Linked DNA regions of Homo sapiens: region 2 is linked to region 1. The links come from fine-mapping of genetic effects on gene expression. A gene starts in region 1. The other region holds a variant in brackets. All regions are shown on one strand. Distances are between the middles of the regions.

Evidence for each region. PIP is the estimated chance that this variant, and not a neighbour inherited with it, causes the effect.
Region 2: its variant is fine-mapped to the expression of CX3CR1 in whole blood (TOPMed, PIP above 0.99).

What each region holds. Positions count from the first base shown.
Region 1 is chr3:39,278,658-39,281,574 of GRCh38, forward strand. CX3CR1 (C-X3-C motif chemokine receptor 1) reads right to left here and starts at 1,379. Exons shown (of 2, transcript NM_001337.4): 1 at 1,297-1,379.
Region 2 is chr3:39,254,266-39,257,182 of GRCh38, forward strand. All of the region lies in intron 2 of LOC102724104 (a long non-coding RNA gene), which reads left to right. Among named protein-coding and RNA genes, the nearest start is that of CX3CR1, 24 kb to the right of the region's middle. RefSeq lists an enhancer at 1,685-1,924 and a silencer at 2,706-2,755. The variant G/A (reference allele first, on the strand shown) is at 1,369.

The sequences.
Region 1 (2,917 bases):
TTTTTTTTTTTTTTTTGTGGAGTGGGTGTTGAAAGAATCCTAAACTTTCTTAGCCATTCTCTGGACTGAGCTATAAACTCACAAAGCAAGGATTGCAGGCTCTGTGAGGCTGTGATTGCCAGAGGCAAGGCAAGAGAAATAACAAGCCGTGGTCAGTCCTCAGCTGGGGCCTCTGATGGATTTCCTCCTGTCTTGCACTCATAATTTCTTTCTGAAGACCATGTTTTCCACCCACACAAACCTGAGCCTGAGTATCCTCACAATGGTTATAACAACATATATCAAAATTGAACACTAAATTTGTGCCAGGAATTTATTAATGGAGAAACCCCGCCTCTACTAAAAATACAAAATTAGCCGGGCGGTGGTACATGCCTATAATCCCAGCTACTTGGGAGGCTGAGGCAGGAGAATCACTTGAACCCAGGAGGCAGAGGTTGCAGTGAGCCGAGACTGTGCCATTGCACTCCAGCTTAGGCAACAAGAGCAAAACTCCGTCTCAAAAAACAAAACACAAACAAGAAAGAAAACCCAAAAAACAAAAAACAAACAAAAACCCATAGATGGTACAAAAAGTGGAAGAAAAAGGAAAAAAAAACCCATGAAACTATCTGCAATGCAGTTTCCTAGAATCAACCACAGTAATCTTTTAGCTTTTCTCTATCTAAATGTTATACATATTTTATATTTATATTAAGTGCATTTATATTTATATTAAAATACAGATACAAATTTAAAAACTCTTTATTATTAAATTTTCAAATAAAAAGCAACTTTTCAAATAAAAGCAGCGAGAACCTCCTTATACCCAACACCTGGCTTCAACTATTAGCAACCCATGGTCAATATTTCCTCTATTTCCCACTTAATGTCTCTACTGAATTATTTAATTTCACCCATAAACACTTGTGTGCATCTCTAAAAGTTAAGGACTCTTTTTTGAAAAAGACTTTAATACAATTTCTCATCTCAAAAAATTAGCAATAATTCCTCAACAGCATCCAGATGCAATTTTTCATGCTTTTTTCAGTTAGTTTAAAATCATGAGCTTTTCTCCATGTCTCTAAAATGTAATTACTAATGCTTCTAATACTATTCCACCAGGTTGAGTGTATTATAAATGATCTGATCACCCCTTGCCTCCCACTCTTCCATCCCCTTGGACATATTTAGGCTACAACATCCCCAGGAAAATGGTTTCCATTGTCTGCACGTAAGCAAACAGGCATTATTAACCTATTAGCTGTCCACTGCTCCACCCCACCCACAGGTACCCAACTAGTCCTGTGCACCTACCTGGCGTGGACTGCCAAGGGAACCTCTGGATCTGCCAGTCAGCCACCCTGTCCTGCTCAGACTTTACCAGAGACGAGTATTTCCCTTTCCTTCCCTCTAAGAGCATTTTATTTGCAGAGTTAGCCAATAGTATCTTGTTTCCTGTAAGGGAGACTATCTTTAGATGCTGCCACAGGCAAGCTCAGATACTCCAGGGTGGAGGCCAGCTGCCAACAGGAGGGCCTGACTTTATAAACCTGGAAGATCTAAACCTCAGGGAAGACTGCGGAGCTGGAGGGAGAGAGGTGCCACTTACCCCAACCTGGAGGTGGGGGGCAGGGAGCAGGCCCTGCAGTCAGCAAAGCACAGCACAGTCAGCTCTCATTAATGGGGAGCCTTCAGGAAGCTGGGAGAGCTCATGGGGCCCTCAGCTTCCCTGCCCACGAGAGGGAGCCCAGAGTACTCACTGGACCACACTGGGGCACACACAGCTCTTCTCCTCAAAGTGCAGTCCCAGGCACTGGGAGCTTATTAAAGACAGCACCTCAAGCCCTGCCCTATATCTGCTGAATTAGAATCTGCATTTTAATGAAATTCTTAGAAGAGTGATATGCATACTAAGTTTGAGAAGCTTTGGTACTGAAGGCATCTAGTGAGTACCTTGCACCTTGTAGATGCTCGGTAAATATTTTTTTCCTCACCTCTCTGCCCCAAGGCATTTAGTGGCTCCCTATACCCATCAGTCAAGGCTGAGGACACAGCTTTCACCCAGGACCTGGCCTATGCTCCTTTCACAGTCTCTCCCCCTGCCACTCTTGCCCTGCAGTGGGGAGCCTGGTGGGCTCCGGCATCCAGCCATGCTTCTGCTCCCTGGCCTGGCCAGCTTGGGGCGACTGCAACGTGAATCTCAACTGCCACTGCCTCATCACCTTCCGATCACTTCATTACCTGCCTGACCCCTGGCATATGCTATATAATTCTGATCCATCCCTAACTAGGGCCTGGCCCATGGTGGCCTTCAATACACCTTCATTAAATGGTCTGTGACCCCTTCAAGGCCCCTCTGGCCCCTTGCTGCCCACATCCCAGCCACATCCGGTGCTCCCTTACCTCTAGTCGCTGTGGTGTTCCGAGGACAGCGGGTGCTCTGTGTGCTCCCCACCTTGCCCCTCCTCACCTCCCCCAACCCCAGGACAGAGCTGGGGGCTGCAGTGCAGTGCTGCGGGCTTGGTGGCCTGCTCATGGTGGAAGAAGTCCACCAGCAGTTTTCTTTCTTTGTTCTTGGTCTCAGTGTTTGGCCACCTTTCCCTGCCTTTGGCCAGAAGGCCACAGGACAAAAGCAGAGTCAGGCCGCTCCCCATCCACTTTCTGACACTGGCCCCTCCCCACCCCACACCACCCCTTGATACCTCTCCTGGGGTCCACTCAGCTGGGCTGGCTGCCTCAGCCCCTTCCTTGCCTCTGACTCCCCTCCTCTTCTGAGGGCTCCTTTCTTGGATCTGGCCAAGACTCTCCCTCTCTTCCTGTCCCACACTCTTGACGACAGTCTCATCCACCCCACATCAGTAATCCCCTCCGTGTTCATGAGCACACATCTCTACCTCCATCCAGGGCCTGGATAATTTCCCAAGCCCATCTAACC
Region 2 (2,917 bases), 24 kb before region 1:
ATTATGCCATGAGGGCTCCTCCTTTGTAAATGGGATTAAGTCTCTTATGAGGCTTCATGCAGCGTTTGGCTAGCTTGGTGGCTTGTCTTTCTGTCATCTGCCATGTGAGGACATGGTAAGAAGGCCCTCATCAGACCAAATGCTCATGCCTTGTCTTGGAATTCTCAGCCTCCAGAACTGTGAGAAATAAATTTTTGTTCTTTTTATTTATTTTTTTATTTTATTATTATTAGTATTATTATTATTTTGAGACAGAGTCTCGCTCTGTCGCCCAGGCTGGAGTGCAGTGGCACAATCTCGGCTCACTGCAAGCTTCGCCTCCCGGGTTCATGCCATTCTCCTGCCTCAACCTCCCAAGTAGCTGGGACTACAGGTGCCCACCACCACGCCCGGCTAATTTTTTGTATTTTTAGTAGAGACGGGGTTTCACTGTGTTAGCCAGGATGGTCTCGATCTCCTGACCTTGTGATCCGCCTGCCTCAGCCTCCCAAAGTGTTGGGATTATAGGCATGAGCCACAGCGCCCTGCCAAATTTTTGTTCTTTTTAAATATCCCACTCTATGGTATTCTGTTATAGCAGCACAAATGGTCTAAGAAACTATTCTTTTATTAGGAAAAAAATAGCAAATTGTGGTTTTAGATTTAAGAGATAAATTTAATTCATGCAAATGATTCATCCTATAAAGATGAGTCATAAATACCAAAGAAGTGCATCCTTTTTTAGACATGTTTAAATATAGTCCACAAATACCAGTGCACTGCTAACTATAGCTACTCCTACAACTTCAAGTTATCTCCTACTCAGCCAAATGTCAAAATTTTACCAGTGAAAACTTAATCACTATTTTTCTTGCTGCATTAATTTCACCCCAACAAGCCTTTAGTACTTTAGTAATATTTTGTGCCATCTGAATAGCAGCAGCTGAATTTACCCAGCACATGCCACTAAAGCCAGAAGCCATGTATTTTGAAGGGCCCACTCAGGTTCATCACAGAGCAGAATGACACCTCTTGCCTCCTCAACTCTGCATCCTTCATATTCTGCTTCTGTGCAAAACTGTGTTGACGAAAAAGTACATATAACTTTAGGTCCTGCTTCAGCCCCAAGATAGGTTTAAATCTGCGTATGCTGCTTAGGCATTCCTGGGGATACCTGTGTGCATGAGGCCTCAGGCTACAAATCTTCATCTCATTCTTCTCCTGAAGAGGGAAGAGAAGTGAGGAGTCCATGGGAAGGTTTCTAGACACTAGAGTTAAGGCCACCATGCTGTTTCATGCACAAAAGATGGGAGACAAAGGCTGGAGGAGCATGAGCTCACCTCAAGGTGAAAGACAGGCCAGGGACATTGGGTTGCAGGCTATAGAAGG[G/A]TTACACATGGGGCAAGGAAAGCTTCCTGTAAAATCACCAACAGCAAAGCTGACATTGTGGTGTATCAGGAAAGAATGCAAATGAGCTGGTCCACTCGACTGTGGTAGAGGGAGCAGTAGGGCCTCGGGGAGGGCCCCTTAACTTTGGGGAAGCTAGCTGTGTCCTTTGGGGCAACAAACAGAAGAAAAGGGAAGTGAGCCTATTCAAATCCTCTGCTGTGGGCAATACACTGTGCTAGATGCTTTCACTGCAATCTCTCATTTTCTCCTCAACCCTGAATATAGACATTGCCACCCCGTTTTTCTGAGTAATAAGGCCTGAGGCAGTTAAGTAATTTCCAAAGACCAACACTCTCAGAGCGTGGATGTCTAACCTTCAAGTTCAGGCTCATCAGCTTCAGAGACAGGGTCTGAGGAGGGGCCAGGACAGAACCTTGTAGGCAAGAACGTGGCAAAATGGCCTCAGGGCCCTGTTGGTCTCACTGAAGATGGTACAGTTGGGGAGTCTGGACTCCACAGATGGCACCTGTAATACTTGGAGGAAGAGAGTAGTCTGGGGCAGGTGTTCCCTCAGCCTGGGAGTGGCCAAAAGTGACCAGGCTAAAGGTTGATAACCTGGGCTCCTTACTTCTCTCAAGGTTGCTCTGACACTGTATTTAGGATTTACACATGGTTTTTTCAATTCTTTTTTGCCAGTAAATATACAGGAGATTTCAAAGATACTCTCAACTCTTAATTGCTGCAATTACACCATCCCTAGACTGAGCATTAAAAAAAAATGCTTCCTGGTATAAGGTTTTGGTACTGTCTTAGCAGTTCATGCCACCACAGGTAAAATACCTGGATGCCCTTACGAAGTAGCCAAATGGAGTGTGATCAGTACTCCAAGGAGTTGGCATGGGCATCAATTGCGTATTATTTTCTCCAGCCTATATCTATCTGCCTGTACTTGGAGTACTGATGAATTAATGCAGTGTTGGCTCTGCTGCCTCTGATCAGTTTACATTAACGACCATGATAAATATGTTGTAAATAAAAGTCATTTTCTTGACTTTCAGGTTTAAATGGCATCTGGCTAACAGCCCCTGGGCAGCCCTTTCCAATATTTTATTAAAATGCTAATTAATACATAGGAAAAGATGAAAATGCTCAATAATGCCGCAGACTAAGACTGAAACCACGTTGTGAGAATAGGGGAGGAAACTGCATTCTACAGGCTAGAGCTTTTTTTTTTTTTTGAGATGGAGTCTCGCTCTGTCACCCAGGTTGGAGTACAGTGGCGCAATCTTGGCTCTGCAACCTCCGCCTCCCGGGTTCACGCCATTCTGCTGCCTCAGCCTCCCGAGTAGCTGGGACTACAGGTGCCTGCCACCATGCCCGGCTGATTTTTTGTATTTTTAGTAGAGACAGGGTTTCACCGTGTTAGCCGGGATGGTCTCAATCTCCTGACCTCGTGATCCACCTGGCTCGGCCTCCCAAAGTGCTGAGATTACAGGCTTGAGCCACTGCGCCCGGCCTGTAGAGCTATTTTAAAAAAGAAACCACTGTA